Regions from separate parts of the Homo sapiens genome. Here region 2 is linked to region 1. Evidence: fine-mapped expression QTL. A gene starts in region 1. The other region holds a variant in brackets. All regions are shown on one strand. Distances are from middle to middle.

Region 1 (8,518 bases):
CTTCTATTTAAAAATACAGTTGACTGTTTTAGGTCACTTAATCTCAGTTCTTAAGAGAAAATGAGAGCAACTTATTAAAGGCAAATCTCCCCTCTAATTTTGCTGAATGTTATTATTTCCCCAATAAAACATGACTCCTTTTTAATGAAGTCTAAGGAATAACAGGAACTACAGCAATTCATTTAAATTACCATGCCTACAGGAAAGATTAACTTTGAACAAGCTACGCTAACTGACTAGTTGAAGAGCTACTCACAGATCAACTCTCTCCCTTCGCCATGGGGAGAATTTCACCATAATTTTGTTTAAATATAAATTGATGCCACAGGTAAATCGTGTTTACTTCTAGCACTGACATCTTCCTAACAAATCAAAAGTAAAAGACTTTATAAGAATATTATATGTATTGTTTTAACTAGATGTTTTTATCACCTTGTGTTAATATAGCACCTTGCTCCAAATTTGTCGACACTATACATCTTTCATCTTTTTAACTAGGATACTCTTTATGGTATATGTGGTACATTTCCTTAGGCAGAAAAATTATTATCAGTACCCTGCACCAGTGTAGAGACTGAGTGCTTCAGAATCATTGTACCTTTGTATGAAGAAAATAAACAAAAACTAACATATAGGTTAATTCTAATTATGACTGGCTTTGTTGAAATAAAATGTAATAAAATCTATAAACATCAAAAATATGTTGTCTGGAAAAGACATCTGTAATAAATAACCTTAAATGTTTAAAAAACTAAAGAATGTCTATAAATAACCTTTAATGTCTAATTGTCAATTTCCATTACATCAGTTAATATTGTAAACTACTCTTCAGTAAGTCTCAAAGTGATACATAAACATGGATTGCTTGAACAGAAACCTTGCCACTATACTAACAAAGTATTTCTATCTGTCTAGTAGGCCTAACCTAAAGAAGCAGGTGCTATATTGTGGTCTATGCAAAGCTAAAGACACATACAGTTACTATTGTAATAAACATATCTACAACACAACTGCCCAGCTTGATCTGACAAACTGCTTGGTTCAAACAGCGGTCAATAACAATACACTAAGTTAAATTTTAAAAAATTGTATGCAGTTCATTGAAATTAATTATATATGAATATGATCTACCCAAATTATTTATTCATAGTTAATGAACGTTTACATCAGAACCAGGTTGATAATTTTCCACTGTGGTGTACAAAATGTAGTTTATTTACTGTATGTAGCACAGTAAATATGCATATGATATGATGTGACAGGACAAGTGAACTGCTTTAATTTAAACACTTTACTGAGCAACTTGGTCAAGGATAATTATGGTAAGATCTTGTAAGTGAATAATGAAAATGACACAAGAGCAAAACTTTTTAAAAGCACATTGGATCCCTTTTAACTACAACATTAAGTTGGGGCTGTGTAAAACAATATATACTTGTGGATTGGAAATTGAAATTTCAAAGGCAAAATCTCAAATATTGATCAGATTTTCATTTTATTAATACTAAATTCAGACTCTGGCTTCAGTTCTCTACGCAACCTCAGATAAATATTTTTCATTGTACGAACTATTTATTTAAGGTCATCTTTTTCAATTTATGGACATCTGAAAACTACTAAGACAAATCCCTCTAGGGAAAAAAATGAATTGTAAATCACACACAGAGACAAACAACTGGGCTTTAAGCCTTCCTTCCCATACTCTAATTGGATGAGTGATTAAGAAGGACTTCTCTTGTTTGTGGTGGTGCCCTCTAACGACTAGACGGACCTTGCTTTAATAACCACTCCATGTGCAATTTGTTTTAGCATTTACACCGTTGATGGTAGGAAGCAATTCTTCTTTAATGGATGCTGAAAGCTTCAAGTGAAATCTGTAATTGACAAAGGCTTCACAGAAACAGGCAATTAAGAATAAAATTAACAAGAGGCTCTACAGGAAAAGCACTCAAGCTTTCAAAGAATACTTCTCCAAGAAAATATTTAGTAAAAATAAAAATTTAAAAGAACCAAGTGTGGTTTCTTCCACTTTACTATCTGCTTCTTGTATCTGTGTGTTTGTTAAAAAGATGACCATAGAGTTAAAGTCATTGGGTCCAGAGGAGTAATCCGCCTCCTAATATTATTAGGGGGAAAAAAAGGAAAGAAAAAAATAAGAAAAGCCCATCGTGAAAGTTGAGGCAAGTTCAGCACCTATTTCTTCAAAATAACAGCTGTTCAGTTGAGTTCTAGTACCTCGCATTGAATGGGGTAGTGTGTAGACAACAAATAAAATCGCTCTGAATAGCGAAGCAACAGGGACAGGAAGGCGAACAGGGCACTAATTGCCCTCATGGCTCCAGGAGCCAACAGCAGTCCTCACGTGTTACTAGTCCAGTAAGTGATACAAGCAGATCCGAAATGACGAATATAAACAAGAGCACGAGAGTGAGTGGAAAAGGAACAGAACTGTCAACCGCATTCTTTGCCCAGTCCTCCAACCCCCAACCCCCCAAAAGGAAGTTTACCTGTGGCTATAGGTAGAACCAGGGGAGGGGGCCCGGGCTGGTTCTCAGACGAGTTACTCCGCGGGTTTGGGGGACGCAGGTCTCCCGGTGGGGAAGGGGCGGGGAGCACTTACTTTGAGCAGCTTGCAGCGAATCTGCGCGGAGACCATGTGGCTGTTGCGCAGGTTGCCCACCCGGAACATAAGCGTGAGTTTTCCGTCCCTCATGGAGATCACCGCGTGCTCGCTGAACATGAGGGTCTCGGCGCGCTTCTTGGGCTGGGACATCTTGATGAACATGCAGCCGATGAGGAAGGCGTCCACGATGGAGCCCAGGATGGACTGGAAGAGGAAGAGGATGATGCCCTCGGGGCACTTGTCTGTGATGTATCGGTAGCCATAGCCGATGGTGGCCTCCGTCTCGATGAAGAAGAGGAAGGCAGAAGGGAAGTTATAGACATTGGCCACGCAAGGCGTGTAGTTACCGACGTGGGCTTTGTTCAGGTCGCCCCGAGTGTAGGCGATCACCCACCACATGGACGCCATGAAAAGCCAGGCCACGGTGTAGGTGAGAATGAAGATGAAGAGGTTCCAGCGCCACTTGAGGTCCACCAGCGTGGTGAAGAGGTCCGAGAGGTAGCGGCTTGTCTCGCTGCCCAGGTTGCCGTGCTGTACATTGCACCGGCCGTTCTTGTCCACGAACCGCTGCCGCTTCTTCTTGGGCACAAGCTGCTGCTGAGGGTCCTGGCCTGGCCCCTGGGGCTGCAAGCCCGAGCCGCTGGACGATGTGGTCACTACCTGATAATCGTCCCCAAATTTCCTTCGGAGTGCAGACATAATACGAAGGGGCGAGCCAGATTCAAACGCGAAGCGAAGGCGCAGGAGCTGGGCGCTGCAAACTAGCACCAATAAGGAGGTGGGGGCGGGGGAGGAAAGGGGGCGAAGCGAGCGCTCCTGGGTGGGGGGCGCACCCGGCAGGTAGCTGCGGTCTCTGCCCCCTGCAGACGCCTCTCCTTCTCCCCTGGGACGGAGGCCTTCTTTCCAAGGTGAGTCTTTAAAAAGTGTTCTCCCGCACTCAAGCCAGGAGGGATGCAAGGAACAGGAACCCAAGCGCAATTTTGCCTCCAAGCTTCCAGAGGCTCCTCTTTTCTTTCCCCACCACCGGCATCCCGGGTCACCTCTTGACTCCCCACGGCCCTCCTGATTATCCTGCAGTACCCCCAAACTGACTGCTTAAAATTAATGAGTTGACAAGCGAGTCCCAACCCACCTGCCAACTCGCTGGCTGCCTAAGAAGCTGCCTTTACCTGCCTGGACCAGACCCTCCCCCCTCCCCGCCGCTCCCCAATCTCCCGCCCCCTGGGACCGCTCCCCGCACCCCCGGCGCACCTGTCTCCTATCTTTTAGCCAAAATCCCGCCCAAAGGCATGTCTGCCGGGCACTGGTGCAACGCCCCCTACCCACGCCCTCCGGGCTCAGATTCCCGGGTTCCGGACTCCAGAGACCTGTCCGCCTGGCGTCCCCCGACCGCCGAGTTTCCGCGGGCGCCACCGGGGCCCTCCGGCGGACCCTCAAGGGCCCGCAGGCCGCCCCCGCGCTCAGCTGAGACACGGCAGTGCGCGAAGCCTGGGCACTCACCCAGCGGGAGAGGGCAGGAGGCGGCGCAGCGGGCGGTAGCGGCAGCCTGGCCTCGCACTCTGCGCTCACGGCTGTTTTCCTCGTTCCCACTTTTCCTGGTGTACCACGATGGGCGCCAATGCAGGTCCCCCAAGCTCCGCACCTCCCTGAGGGCACCGCGCTGTCCCTGCCAGAAAGATCCTTGGCGCACAGAGCACAGAATGACTCGAGCGGGGGCTCGTGGGTTCCTTGGCGCTGTGCCCTCCTTCCAGGCGACAGCGGTGCTGCTGGACGGGGTTCGAGCCTTGGGCTGCCGGTCAGACTTTCAGGTTAAACAGTAGCGCCGCTCTAGCTTTTCCTCTGCCTCTTCCTTCTTCGGTCCCCCACTCCTTGTCAGCGCCTCGGTGGCCCCGGGTGGAAGATGCGAGGCGCAAGCCGGGGCAGCAGGAATGTGGTGTGTGTGGTGGTGCGTGTGATCAGCTGCAGAGCCGCGCTAGCCCCGCCTGTCCCTGCCTTCCCCCGCTGCTCCACCAGCCTGAATTGCACCTCCGAGCCTCAGTTGAGCCTGCAGTGTCTGGCAGCTCAGGAAAAGCGAGCCCCTCCAATGAGAAGCGGCTCTAAATCTGCTCCCAAACGCCCGCCAACTCTCCTTCCTCGCCCCCTGCATCAGTCAGAAAGCCCCCAGTAAAAAGCAAATGCTGCTCTCTGAAGGAAGAGAAGTACAATATGTCTCTGTAACTGGGCACTCGTTTAAACGGATGCCTGGATTTGGGGTTGCATCATAAACAGAGATCCCAACTGGCTCTCAGATAGGCATATTCAGAACTCAAAGTTGCAGGAAGCAGGAGGGGCCTTAGGATGAGAACAGAAAGGAGAGAAACACTAATAGAAATCCTTTCTGCAAATGGCTCTATTAGAAAGGCTCAGAATATCTAGAGTTAATGTGTGCCTATAATTGAAGGAAGAAGGCTGGATTTTAATGGCCTCAGCCTGGCAGTTAACTTAATGGAGGGGCAAAGTGCAGAAATAGCTAATAGAGTGCCCATGAGTAAATACCAGCTTGTTTACCACATTTCACGTTTGCTTTAAAATGCCATGGTATCTTAAGGCATATTTCAGTCAGCCCAGATACATGAAGTTGATTTTGTTGGAAAATCATCAAATCATGGCATTATAAAAGCAAAAGGCTGCTATAAGATTCCCATGGAAAGGAAAATAAGTACATAATTACTCTATGCATTCTCTGCCAATAGGTACTCCTCTCTACCTCTCTACTTATAAACCAACTGCAGGAAAGTGCATGTCAGGTTGTCAGCCATAAGCAGGGGACTCTCACTGTTATTTGGTTAAAACATCTATCCTCAGTTACAGATGCTTCTCCTGCCAGTTCGCTGATAAAAGGTCAGTAACTATCTGTTTGTTCTCTTAAAATTACATAAGAAGGGAAAGTGACACCGTGGGAAGTGGAAACTTCTCTGGTCCTAGAATCATAAGACCTGATTTGAGTCGCGTCTGTGCCATTTACAAGCTGTGTGACCTTGAGCAAGTAGCTGAACAACTTTGAGACCTAATTTTCTCCCCTGAGAAATTGGGAGTTTGAACATTTTCCTAGTGTTGGTATGAAAAAAGAGAGTAAATGTGTTTTTTTTATTTCTGCTATGAAGGATGTTATATAGTGGGCTATAAAGTTGCAACAAGACCAAGAAGAGATTACAAATGAGCTTTTGGAGTTGGCAGCATGCTGTGAACTAACACCTATACTCTCATCTCATCTCTGACTACTCTCCCCCAAGCTCATTATGCCCTTGGCAGCTTGGCTTCTTTCAATTCCTGATACACACCAAAGCATAGCTCCAGCCCTGGGCCTTTGCACTAGATCTGTTCCCTCTACCTAGAAAGTTCTTGCTCTGCCGCTCCGTGTTGCTCGCTCCTTCACTCATTCAACTCTCAACCTAAATGCATCCTTCTCAGGGAAGCCTTCCCTAGCATCTCAGGTATTCCCATCACATCAACCTTATCTATGTTCCTCATCTCACTTTTTTTTTTAGCTACCATTTTCTTCATTTGTTTGTTGTCTTTCTCTTCCACCATTATCAGTTGTAGCATGTAAGCTGTACAAGAGCAAGGACCTCATCTGTCTTGTTCTCTGCTATGTCTCCAGTACCTAGAAAAGTATCACATACTAGGTCCACAATAAATATTTATTAGATCAATAATATGTGCCAATCTATATCACTGGAAACTTTACATGCATTGAAGCTCTCTGAGTAATATGGAATTAAATAAAAGTAATGACTAAATCAGATCACTTATATGGCAATATAAAAAACATGTAAGTTTTTGTTGAAAAAGAGTAATACTTCCTATGCTCGTTAGCTTTAGAAATGATACTGAATCAGGTTCCAAGTCTTTTTTATTGTTATTGCTGCAATATCCCTCATAATTCCCCCTCTCTTTAAAAAAAAAAAGTCACTACTGTTCTTCAAATTCTCATTTCAAGTTAGGCCCAACTCAAATAACTTTCTTGTCTTTATTTGGTTTTCCTCTCCTGCAGACTGCCCAGGATAGTAGTACTAGATCTCTCACCTTAAACCATGTGTTTAGTATTGTTATAGAAAATAAAAGTTCTCCAGTTATTTCATCTGGAAGATCTTAAAACATTCCCACTTTTTGAAAAACACTTTTTCATGAAAAACCTTTGCCATTTTCTAGCAACCAAATTTATAAACAAATAAGTTTATACTTCAGGAGACATGGTCTAGTCTAATCCTCTCATTTTACAAGTGAGGAAATTGGGGATATAAAGGCGAAATAACTTGTTCAATGTCACAGAGTTGATAAGTGGAAACAGATTTGACCACAGAACAATATGACTGTAGAACCTGGATGCTCTACCGTCCCTTACCAGGTAGTGGCAGAGTAAGAAAAGAGCCTAGGATTCCTGATTCGTGGCAAAGGCCTTCTTCCTTTATAGGCCTAGCTTCTCATGCAGGTGAAATCTAAGATTCTCCAACACATGGCATAATCTAGCTTTCCAAATTATCTCCTACCTTCCTTTTAATGGGCACTTTGCTCTAGCCAACTTTGACTATTAGGTATTTCTCAAACATGCCCTATATTATCTTCATTTGCTCACTTTTTTTCTCATCACTTAGAATATCTTTTTTCTACACCTGCAAAGTTCAAATAATAGGCACTAGTATGTAAGGAAAGGGAAGGACTTCTTCATATTTTATTTCAATTGCTATTGATGTCATAAAGTTTTTCCTTATATACTCCCACTAAGAGTAATACATCCCTCCTCTGAACTCTCATTTCCCTAGATTTGCAATGTGGCATTTTTCACATTCTAACTGGTATTTCAGCTTAGAATTTATGAAGATTCCCTCTGAGCACCCTGAGCATCGACTTCTTAATAATTTGGTACCATCCGGTATTCCATGATCCAAACTGGCCTTACGCATGATAAACACTTGATAGAGTTTTAGAGAGAACCAAAATTTATTAAGAACCTACTTTAATGTGCCAGGTAATGTGCTTAGAACTGTACAGGTTAGCATTTATATTACACAGATAGGCAGTGAAGCAGGGATTCCAAAACACATCTGCTTATTGTCAAGATTTCTATTCTTTTAATGACACAGTCCTGCCAGGGAAATTAAATATTTTTAAGGATGCCATTTTGTCACACTTTAAATGTCACTGAGGCTTTGACCTATTTGTGACATTGAGTTCAACTCCTTGAAAATGTTCACAGATGAACCAAACTCATCTTTTCCTGTGAGGGCAGCTGCTTCCAGGATGAGGTTCTGGAGGGCAGCCAGCCCCGTTGTGCAGAGGCCAGGAGGATGTGTGGGGAATGGATGATGGAAGGCCTCCTAATCAGGTGCTGTCTGATGAACTGAAGTGAAACACTGCAAGCAGAATGGGTCAAAGGAGAGAGAGGCACACAATTTCAGGCCAGGCCACAAAGCCAGAAAAGATCTGGAAAATGTAACTGCAGAATACAAAATCATCTGGAGTCTAACATTTAAAGATAGGGTGGTAGATTACGAGAAAACTACCATACAGTTCATGAGGGTGGGGGGGATCAAAGCTATATTTAACAAACTCGGCTAGGAGCAAGCTACATATTTATTCTGCCTGGAAAGTACTTCTGGCAGTGTCTTATTTGCTGTGTCCAAAATTAGTAATATCATGAATAACTATAACTTCAAAAATGAAGAATATGATTCTGTGTTTTATACTTTCTACATGCACTTATCCTATTATGTAACTGAACGGTGTGGGGAAAAGAGTATATCTAATATGAAAGAAAAAACCTCTGCCCCTGAGAAGTCCAAATTCTAAAAATGACTTAATCGGCCAACTGTGACAAAAGCAAGGCTTTGAACATCTCAGTATCCCTGGAGTCTG
Region 2 (8,518 bases), 170 kb after region 1:
AACAAAAAACAAAAAAAAAAAACAGAAAAGAAAACTAGCAGCGGACAATGACAATATTATGTTTCTAGACTTTAGATTTAATGTAGCTTTATCCTAACAATATTAAAGAAAATATTCCACATAAACAGTTTTTTAGTTATTCTATAAATAAAGGTTTTCTTTTTCCTATCGAAAATAATTTGGTCAGGAATTTTCTTCTTCATAATTTTTCTGTTGTAGTAGTTTATTTAAATATTTTCTAAGGGGGTTTCAAATCTGCATTTTTGATTTCTGCTTTCACTATAAAATGGATGGACAGATAAATCTTACTAAACTTAGAGAAATTGTGATTTTTAGCTAATTAATAAGATTCGGGCCAATGCCAGCTGAAAACATGGCACAAATTCAGACAGCAGTTTTAAGAAAATTTGATCAGAAGATAAAACACATATGCAAAAGCACTAACCATTTTATCAGTTTACCATTGTTCATGGAAAAGTCAAACTTTTAGCCTGGCATGCAAAGTGCTCTACCATTCATCACTGCCTCTCTCTTTCTATGTATTTCTCCTTGTTTCTCTACTCAATCACTCCAGCAGCCAAATCTCCCTGGTCCATACAAGCTCCTCTGCTTGTACTTAATTCTGGCTTGGAATATTCTCCCTTTTTCATTCTTTTTATTCAAAATTGACCACCCCTTCTAAGTCTAGCTCAAGTCCCTTCTTCATGAAGTTTGCCTGTTCGCATATCTCTCCTTCAAACTGAATCTTAACACATGTAGGGAAGTTTAAAATTTTCCCTTGAAGTTTCAATAATTTGAGTCTGTAAAACAAACTGATAATAGACTGATTACCAGGAAAAAGGGCATAAAAATTTTATTATATACACAAGATTCATACACAATATAAAAACCCAAAGAAAGGCAAGATGCTGACACTTTTGTATCATCTTGAGGTTACAGAAAGAATAGAGGATTGGATCATGGCAAAGACAGGTTATGGGAAGAAGAGGAAAGACCTGCAGAAAAGGCATTCTTTTTATACAGATAATGATACCAGTGGAGCGTGTCCGGGTTCTTGGGGTCTTGATCAAAGAACTGGACAAAACATGCAAGGAAAGAACGAAGCAACAAAAGCAGAGATTTACTGAAAATGCAAGTACACTCCACAGAGTGAGAGTGGGATGAGTGGGCTCAAGAGCCCAGTTACAGAGTTATCTGGGGTTTAAATACCCTCTAGAGGTTTCCATTGGTTACGTGGTGTATGCCTTATGTAAATGAAGAGGCTAAAGTGAAGTTACAAAGTTATTTGCTTGGTGTATACCCTATGTAAATGAAGAGGATGAAGTAAAGTTACAAAGTCTTTTACTCAGTGTACGCCCTACGTAAATGAAGAGAATGTTTCCTGTCATAGCTGATGTGCTTCCATTTGACTTAGTTCTAGGAAATCCTTAGGTTCCCTGGCTACAGGCCCTATTCTCCTCCCTAAATAAGGTACAGATGAATTCTCACAGGTAGCAGCTCTCAGAAGGAATAGATGGTAGCCAGTGGTAAATGTTTGTCACACCTTTAAAGGTTTCTAGATACGGACGGGGGGCCTTCAGAGAAAGTCTGTTTGCATCTGTCGTTTACTTGACTATTTCCTCTACAGATGCAAATCTTCCTTCAGAAGACAGCTTTTTAGCTAGTCTTGTATTTCTAGCTCCTCTGAATAGCCATCTTGAAATATGTCAAAAAAGTATGTTTTGGGATGAAATAGTTTCAGTTTCCCTCACACAGCCAATGTCCACTGTTCAGTTGGCACATATTACCGCCTCCTGAGTAGTTTTTGTCACTTGTATGAATATCCCCCCTCTTCAACTGCATTGTGATATGCTATGGTGATACAGAGAAGAGTAGGGTCTAATTAACTTTTGCAATTCCACATGAATTACAGATTTTTTTACACACAACAATTATAGCCATAGTAACCAGCTACACTCATGAAACAGATATTATATTTACTGTGAAGGAAAGATACAGAACTGAGTGTGAATCCAATTTCCACCATTTATTAGTTTTGAAGCTTTCATCAAGTTAGTCAATATATTGAAGGCTTCGCAAATGTGTTCTCATTTAATCTTCAACATAATCTTGCACAACAAGTTCTATTACTAGCTCAATTTTAAAATGGAAAAAAGTAAAGACTAGAGAGTTTTACCTAATGTCAGAAGATAAAATTGCAACAAACTTAGTTTAGAGATCTAATTGTTTTTTATTTGTAATTCTAGAATTGGGCAGCATTTTATTCCACAAAATAGAATGAGTGCTCCACTGGTCATGGCAGAACAGTTGGTTTTTGTAAGATGGGAACACAGAAACAGAATAATAGAACAAATCGGACTGGTTAACATCAGTTTACTTCAGATTATTTTTCTTGTAAGGGTTAGAGCAGAGAGAATTTCCTTATTATGATAATTTAGGTTGACTGTGCCTTTTCTAATTGGTTGCTTTGAATCTCCTGTTTTTAGGGAAAACCCATCTGTTTAGGGATTTAGCAGCTTTCTTAAAGTTTCAGTTTGATTATGTAGCGTTTTGCACAAGTAAGCCTTATTTAGTTTTGTCTGGTCTGCTGGGGCCTAGTGCAGCAGCACAGTTGAAAACAATGGCCCCCCAGTAAAATATGTTTCACACTAACGATAGTGGCTGGTAAATAAAGGATCCAGGACTTCCCTGACTGAGAACACAAGCCCTGGTATTAGGCAGAGAGAGGCGTAAACCTGCCCCCAAAAGACTGTTGAGTGTATAAGCGCCTGGCCTTATACCTGCAGGCAAAACAGATTTCAGGGTTATTTGGGGGCTAATAGTAGTGGGACCTTCATAATTACTGTAAAAATCAGGCACCTTAGCTCAAAGAAATTTTTAACACTAACCGAGGAAACTGTTAAAGGACTACTTCGTACTTGATCTACTGACAGCAAAGCTGAAAGCAAACCTGCCCTCCCTTACACTGATGAACTAGGTATTATTGGTTAAATTCACTCTCAAGGTCCCCCAAATAAGTAAGGACATAGCTTTGCTGAGCAGATCTGACAGTCAGCTAGCCATGTTACAAGGGGCATTTGTCTTCCACTAGAATTGGGCATTTGAAGTTGAAGTTGGTTTCCAATTAACCATTCAAAATTACGACAGAAAGCATAAAGAAAGAACAAGGAAAAATTTCATACACTTTTGCTTTATAATAGGTTTGACCTTTTTAAGGTTGAATTTTGTGACAGGCTATGCCACAAGAAAATCTGGAAGAAATAAAACTGGAGAGTTCTAAAAATATGAAATATATACATTGTTCACTTAAAAAAGCTTAAGCCTTAATTCAGCTAAGATGACCTAAATACAAACAAATGCCTCTTAATTATCAGGCCAGTCTGCCTAAGCTATGCAAATAGGTAGTCTCTATCCACTACCTCTTATTCTCCTCACCAATTTCACTCCTCAAGGCAAGCACTTTCAGGTCTGTTTTGTCATAACTTTTCAGCAAGTGTTAAGTTGAGAGTCATTTATTACTTTCCTCCAGGGCAAAGCCAGCACTCTCTTCTAAGTGCTTATACATGTTGATGTCTTACTTGCATGGACGTGGCCAGCCGGTGTGTTACACAGGCCAGCCAAAAACTAAGACCTGCTTTAAATTCTAGCTCTGCTGGTAACCAGTGGAATGGTCTTGCCTAAATCAGTCATTCTTAATCTCAGTTTTCTAATTTGTGAAATAAAAGTCTCATACTAGACCACAGCCAAACATTTACCTCTTTAATTTTATACCATAAATCTACCTATCATGTGTAACTTCCATAATAGCACTCTCCTTCTTATCTTCTTTCCCTTTCAGGCATTAATTTATTATTCATTACTGGCTATTAGCTACTATCATCCCTGAGGTAATTTTCAAGTCTTTATTTTTTCACTACTTTCACTCCCATTCTTCTTCCTTCTACATTCACTCATTCACAGGATTTCAACTGTCAATTATTGGAGACTGAATACTAAATTTTCAGTTTCCTGTTTTCATAACCATGAGGCTATATAATTTTTCTACGTCATTTATATTAGCAACAAAGATCACAGACTCTTCCCGTAAAGCATCCTCTGATCCTCCAAGTTCTTAAATTGACTCTTGGAGTCAATTTAGACTCCTTCAACCCTTTTCCAGTCAATTTGCTGCTAAGTCTTATTATTCTCTCTACAAACTTTCCTTGTGAGATTTGAAACCACTTTTATCAACAACTCAACTATTAGGACTGAGAACTGAGGCCACCTATGTCAACAAGACTTAGCTGTTTGTTCAAGGA[A/G]ATACTTGTCCAAGAACGTAAGACTATATATAACCCAGCAGACAACTTTACAGTTAGTTTCAGTAAAAAATTGTTTCATAGCGATAAGAAGTTTTTTTTTTTTCTAGGTTCAAACAATTATCCTGCCTCAGCTTCCTGAGTAGCTGAGAATACAGGTGTGTGCCACCATGCCCAGCTAATTTTTGTATTTTTAGTAGAGACGGGGTTTTGCCATATAGACCAGGCTGGTCTTGAAACCCTGATCTCAAGTGATCGGCCCACCTTGGCCTCCCAAAGTACTGAGATTACAGGTGTCAGCCATTGCACCCAGCCAGATATGAGATTTTAATATCCTGTAAGAACATACTAATGTATTTGACTGTCAGCCTTCTGTCTCTACTCTTCACATGGTCGCTAGACTAATTTCTTTTCTTTTTTTTTTTTAGTTTGGCCATGTACACACACTCCAGAATCCACTAGAATTTTTTAACCTGCAGAGCCAAATTACTAATACATACAGTTAAAGCCCTTCTCATCAACCATCCTACCTTAACTGTTGGGTGACTGATTTTAAGCTACTTTTCTCATTATTGTCTTACCTGTATGAGAATCTTTTCTCATAGGAACTTAATTTCCAGCATTTCATCATCAACCTCTAACTTCCTGCTTTTACCAGGGGGTCTGACTATCTACGAACACTAATCCACACTCAACATATTCTTTGCATCTTGCCTCAGTAGTCCTCATTTTTCAAGAAAGTTTCTAGCCATAATAATTCATCAACTAATTTAAATCACTCTTTTCATCAGTCTTCCCAGAGTTTCTTTTATTATTTATTTGTACTTTAAGATATTTTGTGAAAATGTCTTTCAGGTTTTAATGTTTGTTCCCTCTCTATGGCAGAGTGAGTTGCCCTCATCAAACATTCCATCTTCAGCCTCACATATCCCTACCTCTTTGCAGTTAGATAGACCCATGTGAATAGTTTTGGCTGGAAAATAAGTGAAATGTGTCACTTCTGAGCAAAAGTATAGAAGAGTGGGAGTTCAACTCACCAGTTGTCTCTACCACTATAAGGCTTCCTGTGCCAGATGGCACAGCTCCAAGATGGTAGAGCCTCTATTGGCGTGTGCACCCAAGTGATGCTATACAGCAAATCTTCAAAGTGGCCTACACTGGACACATAGTGAGAGCAAAAGTAAACCTTTATGTGTTAAGGTGCTGAGATTATAAATAATAGAGTCTTCTAAGTTAGTCAAGTGACTTTTGGTAAGAGATTATTTATTCAGTTGATTTTACAGTTTTCTCCTCAGTATACAGTGTAGTCTCCATACAAGCATTGTAATCAATAAATACTTTTGTCTATATTGTTTTGTATTTATTTTTCCCTAAATATAATTGGCCCCAGAATTTTATTGCAATAGAAATAAAATCAATGATAATGCTCTACAACTCTTCCTTATATCATTCTAAATGCTGCATTTCAGATATTTTAAAAATTAGTTGTAAAGTTTTTAAAGAAGATAGTTATCTGCGTGTATCTGTCAGGGATTAATCAGAGAAGCTGAGCTCTGAAGAGTTATGGGATAAGGGATTTGTCATAGAAATTAGGCCTTACACATTTGGAGGAGGCAATGGGTAAGGATAGTATTGAAAGAGAGAATAGAAGAATCAGAGGAGATACCCATCAGTCACTATAAGAAGTCAGCAAGTGCAGGCACTGAGGTGGAACTACAAAGGGTGAGCTGGTAGAGAAGTTCTTAAGAAACTGTTGATTCTATGGGTCTTCAGCCAGTGTCTAGTGAGGGACTTGGGGCCACTCTTGGTTAGCAGGATCCGCAGTTCTGTAGGAGCTGAACATGGAGTGGAAGAAAGTGAGGACAAGCAGGAATCTTGCCATTCATGAGTCTGTCTTGTCACCACAGCTAATACTAGAGATCTTCGGAGAGTAAGGATTACTACTTAATTTCCACCTTCCAAACTTCATGCAGTTTCCCATTTAGCTAACATAATCCAAAACCATACAAAAGAGAGGGTTTGATAAGCAGAAGGGCCTGGGTCTGTCAAATGAGAGAAACTTAAGTGAGAGTAGTCAGCTTGAAAGGAAAGAGTAGTGGGTTAGAGACCGCCACAAATTCTGTACTGCTTCTCCATCAATGAGTGGAGACTATCTCCTCTTCTGCTGAATCTGAATTGGCTTTGAAATGTGCTTTGGTTTTCAGCAGGAGTGAAGTTTTGCCTATTCACCTTTATTCTGCACCAAACATAACATTGTCTTTTCCTGCCCTTAACATAATATTCAACAGAACTACTACAAAGATACTACAAATTATATATAGCAGAATATACTTAATAAAATCAAAATGAATTAAGGATTGAAAATAAAAAACATGATAATCATCCAATAAAACCAGGACATACAGTTGCATATTCTTTCATTAATTGTATTATTATTGTCTCCTCTTTTTACCTATACTTATTAGATTCTTTTTCATGAAAAGCAATTTTAGACTGAAGCTGACTGCAAATGTTTTTAAGAAAAATTTAGACAATAACTATGGATAACAAAAGCTTATATATTTACTGTAATCTATCATTTGATAATATTTTACATAAAATTTACCAAATAATCTAATCATTTAATCTCTGCAAGATGAGAGACATTTTGTGAGTTTTCTCAGAAGCCCAATTGGAAAATCTAAAAGTTAATTTTAGACCCAAGAGACTTAATGTAGGATATTAATCCTGGAGAAAGCTGCCAAAAATGTCAAAAGGTTTAAAACACTTAATTGAAACAGAATCACAGGTCATCGTAAAATAATAACTATTTATTTAACTAGAGCAATAATCAAAAGACACAAAAACCTCAACCTTTGAAAGCTCAGTTTTCCTAAATAATAAAAAAATCTAAATAAGACAACACAGGAATTATCTTGATAAAATGTAAAATCTTTCTTTTTTATGCCAGTGTCAAAAAGGTCCAGAAAAACTTCCTGTATTGTGATTACAGCTCCTTAAGTGAAGCCCATTTGGATAAGCTGGAAGTCAAAACTGATGAAAAGGATACTTGAATTTAATTAGACATAGAAAGACCGTGTTCAGGGTTACAAGTACACATTATATTTTCGAGGAATGTAAACAAGAAAACTAGTACCTTGAAATGGGAAATATATGGCTTTTAGTAACAGCTTGGGAAGCTTCCTGGTTACATTGACCAATTTAGACATACCAAGCAAAGCCAGGTGCACAGATCACATTACATGTGAAGAAAACATTGCTTTTCTAGACCTTCAAAATAAACATTTCAGCATCAGGCCATGACAGCAAAGTTAGAACCAGAGGAAAAAAACTACAGGAATTGACAAAAATGTTGAAGGAAAGAGTTATCATCCCAGTCAAACAAACAAACAAGAAAATGTATCTTTTTAAGAGGAGAAAGAACAGAAGGCAATGATGTATGACCACAAATCACATGCAGCAAGGTACAGCAAAAATTGAACTTCTGAGATATATATCTGAGACATTTCAAAAAGCTACAGATTACAAAATTTAAAGATGTAATTTTTATTTTTAATTAAAAATGTATTTTTATTAAAAGCCAACCAATAATTTAAGAAAACCTTGTTGTTCTAACATAAGGGACCAAAATTTTTAGTTTTGTATTAGTGTATTTTTAATATTAATGTTCAATCTTTTTAGGAGGAGGGGGAAGAGCAAAATGGTAGAATAGCAGGCTCCACTGATTGTCCCTCCCACAAGGACACCAATTTAACAATTATCTACACACTGAAAAACCACCTTTATAAGAACCAAAAGCCAGGTGAACACTCACAGTACCTGGTTTTAACTTCATATCACTGAAAGAGATAGGAAAACCAGTCTCAAATCACTGATGTGACCCCCTCCCCCATCCCCTTGCAGCTGCAGGGCGGCGCAGAGAGCATTTTTGTGCACTGAGGACAGGGAAAGCGCAGCAGCTGTGAGACACTGAACGTAGTGCTGCCCTGTTATAGCAGAAAACAAAACCAGACCAAACTCAGCTGATGTCCACCCACAAAGGGAACATTTAAGCTAGCCTTAGCCAGAGGGGAATCCCTGATCCCAGCATCTGAACGGGAGTTCCCACAGCCTCACCACCATGGGCTAAAGTGCTCTTGGGCTCTAAATAAACTTGAAAGGTAGTCTAGGCCACAAGAGCTGCAACTTCTAGGTGAGCCCTAGGGCTGACCTGAGCCCAGAGA

Alleles and levels. Positions count from the first base shown, and alleles are read on the strand shown. Sizes are in standard deviations (SD) of each study's normalised expression.
For the expression in aorta of the gene that starts at base 3,403 in region 1, allele A in region 2 goes with a higher level than allele G (moderate effect, 0.48 SD a copy in GTEx).

Evidence for each region. PIP is the estimated chance that this variant, and not a neighbour inherited with it, causes the effect.
Region 2: its variant is fine-mapped to the expression of KCNJ3 in aorta (GTEx, PIP above 0.99).

Annotation. Positions count from the first base shown.
Region 1 is chr2:154,693,580-154,702,097 of GRCh38, reverse strand. It overlaps KCNJ3 (potassium inwardly rectifying channel subfamily J member 3), which reads right to left and starts at 3,403. Exons shown (of 3, transcript NM_002239.4): 1 at 2,621-3,403. The coding sequence starts at 3,322.
Region 2 is chr2:154,527,956-154,536,473 of GRCh38, reverse strand. All of the region lies in intron 2 of LOC105373693 (a long non-coding RNA gene), which reads right to left. Among named protein-coding and RNA genes, the nearest start is that of GALNT13-AS1, 75 kb to the right of the region's middle. The variant A/G (reference allele first, on the strand shown) is at 4,299.